Regions from separate parts of the Homo sapiens genome. Here region 2 is linked to region 1. The links come from fine-mapping of genetic effects on gene expression. A gene starts in region 1. The other region holds a variant in brackets. All regions are shown on one strand. Distances are from middle to middle.

Evidence for each region. PIP is the estimated chance that this variant, and not a neighbour inherited with it, causes the effect.
Region 2: its variant is the best candidate, but not a certain one, in a credible set for the expression of ASB6 in lung (TOPMed, PIP 0.74).

The regions. Positions count from the first base shown.
Region 1 is chr9:129,640,266-129,644,646 of GRCh38, reverse strand. ASB6 (ankyrin repeat and SOCS box containing 6) reads left to right here and starts at 2,496. Exons shown (of 6, transcript NM_017873.4): 1 at 2,496-2,760; 2 at 3,925-4,106. The coding sequence starts at 2,648. RefSeq lists a silencer at 2,130-2,729 and enhancers at 3,436-3,992, 3,993-4,381.
Region 2 is chr9:129,614,289-129,618,622 of GRCh38, reverse strand. C9orf50 (chromosome 9 open reading frame 50) reads left to right here. Exons shown (of 7, transcript NM_199350.4): 4 at 2,976-3,139. It also overlaps a transcript of NTMT1 not described here. Among named protein-coding and RNA genes, the nearest start is that of C9orf50, 4.6 kb to the left of the region's middle. The variant TC/C (reference allele first, on the strand shown) is at 1,547.

The DNA of each region.
Region 1 (4,381 bases):
ATGGAAGAGGAAGCAAACTGAGGCACTCTGAATGCCTGGCGTCGGAGGTGGTTTTCCGAGAGCCTGTCATTGGATCTGACAACAGCTTTAACAACCAGAGCCAGCAGTTACCAGCCGCTGCTGCCACACCCTCAACCTTGCCGGTTGAGGCTCGTTGCTTTGGGTTTTCTTGTACAGTTTGTTTTGCACATGGTAGAGGGCCTTACTCTGCCCATTTAAAAATGTTTCATCTGGCTGGGCGTGGTGGGCTCACGTCTGTAAGCCCAGTACTTTGGGAGGCTGAGGCGGGTGGATCACCTGAGGTCAGGAGTTCGAGAATAGCCTGGCCAACATGGTGAAACCCCGTCTCTACTAAAAATACAAAAATTAGCCTGGCGTGGTAGCGCATGCCTGTAATTCCAGCTACCTGGTAGGCTTGAACCCAGGGGTTGGAGGTTGCAGTGAGCCGAGATCCTGCCACTGCACTCCAGCTTAGGCAACAGAGTGAGACTCCGTCTGAAAAATAATAATAATAATAATAATAAATAAATAAATATAAAAATGTTTACTCTAAGACCCATCGGATTGTCTTGAAATGCGCCTTTAAATGTTTTTTTCCTGGGCTGGGCAACTCTCGCTGTCTGGCAGGTTCCAGGGAGAGGGGCCCAACTTGGCAGAGCAAGGCCCAGGAGGCCAACGCTGTGATGTGGACTGCTGGGGCGGGAAACCCCTCTTCATCATCAGCTTCCCAGAAGCAAGAAGGCATCAAGGCCCCCCCACGCAGACTCCAGGTGGGAGAGGAGGCTCAAATGCATGGCCCAAGGGGAGGTGCCTCGACTCCAGAAAAGTGGTTTTTCCAAGGCAAGCTGGAAATGTCCATTTCCATGTGAGCAGAATTTCCCGATTTCACCCAGGGAGAAATTTCTTTCCTACAGCGAGAACCAAGGCAGAAACGTGCTGGCAGCTGTGGACTCTGCGGCCTGGAGCTGCTTCTAGGAAGCCCAAGCTGGTGTTGCCCTAAAGGGGCTTAAACCCGGCTGCCCACTCCGCCCCTTCTTCCTGAACCAGAGGGTTTTGGCTCCTTCCCACTGAATTCCACTTCCACCAACAATTACAGTGCGCTGGCTCCAGCATCTCAGGTGAGTGTGATTATACTTTTTTTTTTTCTTTTTGAGACAGAGTTTCGTTCTTATTGCCCAGGCTGGAGTGTGATGGTGCGATCTCCACTCACTGCAACCTCCGCCTCCCGGGTTCAAGCAATTCTCCTGCCTCAGCCTCCCAAGTAGCTGGGATTACAGGCGCCTGCCACCACGCCCGGGTAATTTTTGTATTTTTAGTAGAGACAGGGTTTCATCATATTGGCCAGGCCGGTCTGCAGCTTCGAACTTCTGACCTCAGGTGATCCACCTGCCTCGGCCTCTCAAAGTGCTGGGGATTCTACCCATTTTACAGATGAGGAAATCCAAGTTCAGAGACAGGCGGTAGCACACTCCTGTGTTCCCAGCTTCTCGGGAGGCTGAGGCGGGAGGATCACCTGAGCCCAGGGGTTCAAAGCTGCAGTGAGTCATGATCACTACACTACACTCCAGCCTGGGAGACAGAGTGAGACCCTGTCTCTAAAAAATACACAAGATTCGGGCTGGGCACCGTGGCTCATGCCTGTAATCCCAGCACTTTGGGAGGCCGAGGTGGGAGGATCACGAGGTCAGGAGTTCGAGACCAGCCTGGCCAATATGGTGAAACCCTGTCTCTACTAAAAATACAAGAATAAGCTGGGCGTGGTGGCCAGCGCCTGTAATCCCAGCTACTCGGGAGGCTGAGGCAGGAGAATCGCTTGAACCCGGGAGGCGGAGGTTGCAGTGAGCCGAGATCGTGCCATTGCACTCCAGCCTGGGCAACAGAGCGAGACTACGTCCCCCAAAAAAACAAAAACAACAACAACAAAAAACAAGATTCACTGAGTCCATCAAGGCAGAGGTGGAGAGGGCTAGCAGCCGTCCTGGCCAGGTGCTCCCCGGGACAGAGAATAAGAAACTGAGGAGGGGACGTGCGAGTACCCTGGTCCTCATCATTCCAGTCAGCGGGCCGGGTGGTGACAGAGGTGGCCCAGCCCCTCTTCAGGGAAGGCGAGGGCCAGCCCGAACCGGAAGGGGCAGTGTCTGATGACCACAGCTCTCAGGGGCGCCCAGGGCCAGTGGGGCAGCGGCAGGGCCGAGAGCACGACCGGCGGAACTCGGACGGCGCCCAGCGGTCGCGGGCGGGATCGCAGGGCGAAGCCGAGCCGGGCCGGGCCCTGGCAGGAAGGGGCGGACCCGCCTGAGTCTCGGATCTGGCTTGGCTCGATCCTCCACTCTCCCACTCCGCTGGGGCCGCCCACTGGACATCGCCCGAGTCGGCCTGGCGGTCGTGCCCCAGGACGCGCCGAGGTCCTCCGAGCCCGCAGGGGGCGCTGTCGCCATATGGCCCACCCTGAGTCGGCGCGGGCAGGAAGTACGAGGGTCACTTCCGGCGGGGGCGCGGCTTGGACTGAGGAGCGGACCCGGCCGGGCGCAGGGGCTGGACTGGCGGAGCAGGTGGGGTCCGCGGCCGCCGGAGCGTTCCGGTCGGCGTCTGGGCATCTCGGCCTCGGCAGAAAGCGCGACGGCCCTGCTGCGCGGGGCCCGCGGCGATGCCGTTCCTGCACGGCTTCCGGAGGATCATCTTCGAGTACCAGCCGCTGGTGGATGCGATTCTGGGCTCCCTGGGGATCCAGGACCCCGAGCGGCAGGAGTCTCTGGACCGGTAACTCACCCCCTCCCGTGAGCTGGCCGAGGCCGCTCCGACCCCGCAGCGTCCCACTTTATCACCACAAGCCGGGCGGGGTGGATGCGTCCCCCTTGACAGAGGAAGGGACGGGCGGAAGCCGGGGTTGCGTGGCTCGGAGTGCGCGCTGCCCCGCGCGGATCCCACTCCTGCCCCTTGCATGGCGGAGACGAAGGGCGGGGAGGGCCCGAGGGCGGAGGCCCGCGGGTTGTCGCAGGGCCTGCGCCTCAGCCCCACCCTGTCGCCTGCCTGTCCTGTGCCACCCCCCGGCGTGGCAGAGGAGCAGGGTGGAATCCGTGAGGCCTCAGATGTTACCCCAGAGCAGTGTGAAGGTGGGCTTTTGTAGCAGAGTTTGCGTTTTTATAGACAAGAGCTGGTCTGTCGTGGACCTGCAGGAAAGGGGTCGGGAGCGAATCTGCATTCACTGCCCATGGTACTAGGCACCTGGGGTCCATCAGTGGCTCAGCAAAACCCCCGCCTTCTTGGCGCATGTGCTCCAGAGGAGAGACTGACAAGTAATTGTACGGCGGCACGCGAGGTGGAAGGGAGGGGAGAGCAGAAGGAAGGGGCTCGGCTCAGGTGTTGAGGGGGTTGTCAGTTGGTATTTCCAACACGTGGTAATGATGAGTCTCGCCATCCAGGGACTCTGGTGGAAACGTAGGCTTTCTTCATCAATATCAGCTGAAGGTCTCAATGTGAGGGGAGGGAGGAGGCTGTGTTGCTGTCCTGGCTGCAGGTGTTGCCGGGGCTGGGGTCCTGCGGGTTTGAGGATGGAAGGGCTTTCTGAGGAAGAAGCATCAAAGTCGGGCTTGGGCTCTTGGCCTCCAGGCTGGTGGTCCCTTCAGTCCCAGCAGCCCAGGTGTGTGAGGCTTTGTACCTAAGTCTGCGACCGGACTCTGGGCAACGCGGGAGGAGAGCGCAGACAGACCCAGCCCATTCTCCGCAAATCCCAGTCTGCTCCCGTATTAAGAGATGCAGCGTGGCCCTCTCTCTACTTCAGAGCTTCCCCCAAGCCCCTGTGACCCACAGAGCCAGGGCCCTGCTTGCTGATGATGATAGCAGGACTAAAGCCCACCAACCCACAGGCTGCGCGGTCACCCGGTCCCACAGCTGTGCCTACCCTCAGCCTCTCTCCTGTCCCAGGCCCAGTTATGTCGCCAGCGAGGAGAGCCGAATCCTTGTTCTCACTGAGCTGCTGGAGAGGAAAGCCCACTCTCCCTTTTACCAGGAAGGCGTGAGCAACGCCCTGCTCAAGATGGCTGAGCTGGGGCTGACGCGGGCGGCCGACGTTCTCTTGCGGCATGGGGCCAATCTCAACTTTGAAGGTCAGCGAGAGCCCCGGGGGTGGGCAGGTGGCTTAAACGCGGCCCGACGCTGGGTGGGCGCCCATGTCCCCAGCCTTGGCTTCTACCATCCTCTGAGGAGTGACTTCCCCCCCTTTATTTCCTGGGTGGCTGCAACTAAGGAAACTCCCATTGGGTGGCCTCCCACCCCCTGCGGGTTTTCACATGGCTCTTCCCACCTCTGTTCCAAGAGCGAGTGTTGCTGCTTCTACCATGTGATTGATTAGCAAACTTTCCCCAGCTCCCAGATTAATCCC
Region 2 (4,334 bases), 26 kb after region 1:
CATCTACAAATCCTTCCATCCACTTGTAAACCCAGGACACTGTCCATCGCTAATCTAGTCATAAAGCCATCCACAAACCTACATACCCATCTACATAATCATCCAGCCACGCATCTGTCCATCTACCCATACATTCATAGTTCAGTTCTATTCAGACCCTTTCATTAACTCACCCATCAGTCCATCCACCCATCAACCCACCCACCCAGTCTTCCATCATTTTACCCATCCCACCATCATTTGTCCATTTCTTACTCTAACTTTTATTAGGTTTTACTATATGTTGAATATTGGGAGAAAACTAAGGGATGGAGGTAAGAGAAGAGCCTAGGAATTGGAACCTACCTGGGCCTAGACACCATAGTTTTAACAGAGGAGGAAAAGAAGACAGAAACAGTTCCTCCAGGTTAAAATTCCTCCAGGCTTAAGCAGGGGTGAAGGGTGAATGGCACTGCCCATGAGTTTAAAGACCAGGGAGAGTAAATACATCACAAACATATCATTCTTCCTCATCTCATACCCACAGCAGACAAAACTAATGGATCATATTTCCCCACTGAGCCTCAGAACCATTCCTCACACAGTACTCTAGGTAGATACTCCTGATGGATCAGGGTAGGAACTAGAAATGGAACACATGGCCAAGCATGGTGGCTCATGCCTATAATCCCAGTGCTTTGGGAGGCTGAGGCAGGAGGATCGCTTGAGCCCAGGAGTTTGAGACCAGCCTTGGTAACATGGTGAAACCCTGTCTCTACAAAAATTACAAAAATTAGCTGGGCGTGGTGGTGCATGCCTGTGGTTCCAGCTACTCGGGAGGCTGAGGTGGGAGGATTGCTTGAGCCTGGGAGGTTGAGGCTGCAGTGAGCCAAGATCGTGCCACTGCACTCCAGCCTGGGTGACAGAGCAAGACCCTGTCTCAAAAAACAAACAAACAAACAAAAACAGTGAAACACATTTACCAACCTCAGAACGTTCAACCAATCAGGCCAAATATACACATGACTTCTCACAAGATACAAATAAATAAAAGTATGGAATTCATTCTCTCAAATGTGAGCAAAAGCAGAGACAAACACAGTTACAGACTTTCACATTCAAGAGCAAATACTTGAGCACCTTACTGTGTGTGAGATTCCCTGGTAGGCCCTGCAGGGGACACTGTGGTGCCTCAGAACAGGCTCCAGTGGCCCTCGAGTGAAGATGCTGAGATTTCAGGCAGGTGGGCAGAGCTGGGTTATGCCTTTGCCTGGCCCAGCAGCCAGCAGAGAGCAGGGGTTCCTGAGCAGACAACTGTTAGATGACTAGGTCCCAAGGCATGTAGCCAGGCACTGTCCTGACACCTCCCAACTGCTTGGCTCTTTGGAGGCTGATGAAAAGCATTCCCTCTGCATCTACACAGACATACAGATGTGGTCAGATGAATGGATGCAGACATATAACTATGTGCATACTAACGGTCAGCCATGACCTTCCTCCATAACAGAGTTATAGGTGGGTCAAGCAGGCCTTCCCGCAGCCTTGCCCTTGAGGCTGATTTTTTTTT[TC/C]TTTTTTTTTGAGACGAAGTCTCACTCCGTCCCTAGGCTGGAGTGCAGTGGCACGATCTCGGCTCACTGCAACCTCTACCTCCTGGGTTCAAGTGATTCTCAACCTCTCGAGTAACTGGAACTACAGGCGCACGCCACCGTGCCCAGCTAATTTTTTTGTATTTTTGGTAGAGACGGGGGTTTCACCATGTTGGCCAGGATGGTCTGGATCTCTTGACCTTTTGATCTGCCTGCCTCCCAAAGTGCTGGGATTACAGGCGTGAGCCACCACACCGGGTTGAGGCTGAAATTAATAACAATAAATGGAACAATGTTATCTATGAAATATACATATAACAGATACCCTTGATTAAGGCCAAACCCTGTGCCAGGCCACGTCCTACATGCCTCATGTAAATCATTTGATACTCACCAAACCCAGGAGGATGGTATTATTGTGCCTATAATTTAAAGGGAAAAAAACCTGCAGAATGGAGACTTGGAGACAGTCTACCAAAGGCCACGTGGCTGGGATGGGGCATGATTGAGATAGACAGTTACAATAAGAACAGCTCAGGCAGGCGGGCGGGCGGTGGCTCATGCCTGTGATCCCAGCACTTAGGAAGGCGAAGGGGGGTGGATCACTTGAGGTCAGGCGTTCGGGACCACCCTGGCCAATAAGGTGAAACCCCGTTTCTACTAAAAATACAAAAATTAGCCGGGCGTGGTGGCACACGCCTGTAGTCCCAGCTACTCGGGAGGCTGAGGCAGGAGAATGGCGTGAACCCGGGAGGCGGAGCTTGCAATGAGCCGAGATGGCACCACTGCACTCCAGCCTGAGCCACAGAGCGAGAATCTGTCTCAAAAACAAAACAAAAACAAAAAACAGCTCCCTGTTAGTGATGTTTCCTCTGGGTCCTGCAGACCCTGGGCTGGATGCTTGTACGGCCCATTTCCTTTCTTCACAACCCTGTAGGGTGGGCACAATGATTCCCATTTTACAGACAAGAAAACTGAGGCTCAAAAGGGTCAGGAATGAAACCCAGGACTGCATGACTCCTGGGCTGGCATTCTTATTCTCTCTGCTAAATTGCTTTACGTGCGAGGGCGCCAGCTCTGGAACCAGGATGCAGGTCTTGGCTCCATGCCTGACAGCTGCATCGCCTTGGAATAGTCTCTGTGCCTCTGTTTCCTCAACTATAAAATGAGAATGATAACAGCGTTTCATGGGGACTGTGTGCATTTGGTGGGTTGGTGTATGTGCGTGCTTGAGCCTGCCTGGCAGGTAGGAAGTGCTCCGTTAAGGCCGGCTGCTGTGATTGGCGTTATCCATTCTTCAAGACCAGTGTAGGGCACTTGTCCAGGATCTCACAGCGAGTCTGGGGCTGGTGCGTGTGTGCTGGGGTACGGTGGGGGGCTTCGAGCACAGGCCCCTCTCCCCTCTCTCAGCAGGCCCCACGGTGCACAGGTCCCCAGGCTCAAGGCTGCGCTGACCCACAACCCCTCGGGGGAAGGCTCTAGGCCCTGCAGGCAGCGTTGCCCTTTCCGGGTGCGATTCGCTGACGAGACCCTGCAGGACACAACGCTCCGCTACTGGGAGCGCAGACGCTCAGGTAAGCAGACAGGATGGGGAGCCTCGAGACTCCCGAAAGTTCTAGCCAGGAGGGCAGAGAGGCTGTAGCTCCGGGCCCCTAGAGTGAGGGACTGGCTTTGCAAAGGCCAAGAGATCAGTGATCCTGCAGAGGATGTGCCTGAACTGGCCTCCTTGGAGGATGTCAGGTTGACCTTCGAAGACCAAGTAGAGGGTCCAGAGTCCAGTGGAGGTGTTCCAACGCAGGCAGCACCTTGGACTGCTCGCTGCCAAGGGGTTCCCATATGCTGTATCTGCCCACCTTGAGACCCGTAGCCGGAGCCTCCAGAGCCCACACTTGCTCCCCTCCGCAGTCCCCACAGCCTACAGGGGCTGGAGGAGGTCCAGATGCCATTGGAAGCATCTTCCTTTGACATCCATGAAGGCAGACCTCGAAGCCTGCCTGAGGAGGTGCCCAGAAAAGCCGCGAAGCGGAAACTTTCTCTCTCCTGGAGACAGTTGGCACTGCCAGGTCCAGCAAGGAAGCTAAGAGCCACCAGACCCTGGATGTAATGGTGTCTGTTTTGCAGTTCCCAGTGAGTTTTCTTTTTCTTTTTTTTTTTCTGATACGGAGTCTCACTCTGTCGCCCAGGCTGGAGTGCAGTGGCGCGATCTCGGCTCGCTGCAAGCTCCACCTCCCGGGTTCATGCCATTCTCCTGCCTCAGCCTCCTGAGTACCTGGGATTACAGGCATGCGCCACCGCCCCTGGCTAATTTTGTATTTTTAGTAGAGACGGGGTTTCTCCATGTTGACCAGGGTGGTCTCGAACTCCTGACCTCAGGGATCCACCTGCCTCTGCCTCCCAAAGTGCTGGGATTACAGGCATGAGCCACCGCGCCTGGCCATTCCCAGTGAATTTTCTGAAGTGTGTCTCGAGAAGCAGGCGAGAAGTCCCTGTTCTTACTCTGGTATAACCTTGACTAAGCTCCACCTTTTTCTGTGTGCCCAGCCTCTTCTCAGGATCCAGCAGCCCCCAGGGTCCCCAACAGTCAATGTCCTCTAGCTGTTTATTGAGCACCCACTATGTGCAGTTTCAGGAAATGTCTGCCTCAAGGTCTAGCTGTGGGCGATGCCCTGCAAACCTAGGACCTTCGCTGATTTGGGAGGGATCTGACGCAGCCTCCTTAGCGTGACAGGAAGCTGGAGTTAGAAGCTGTGATTTTTGCCCAACTTCTGT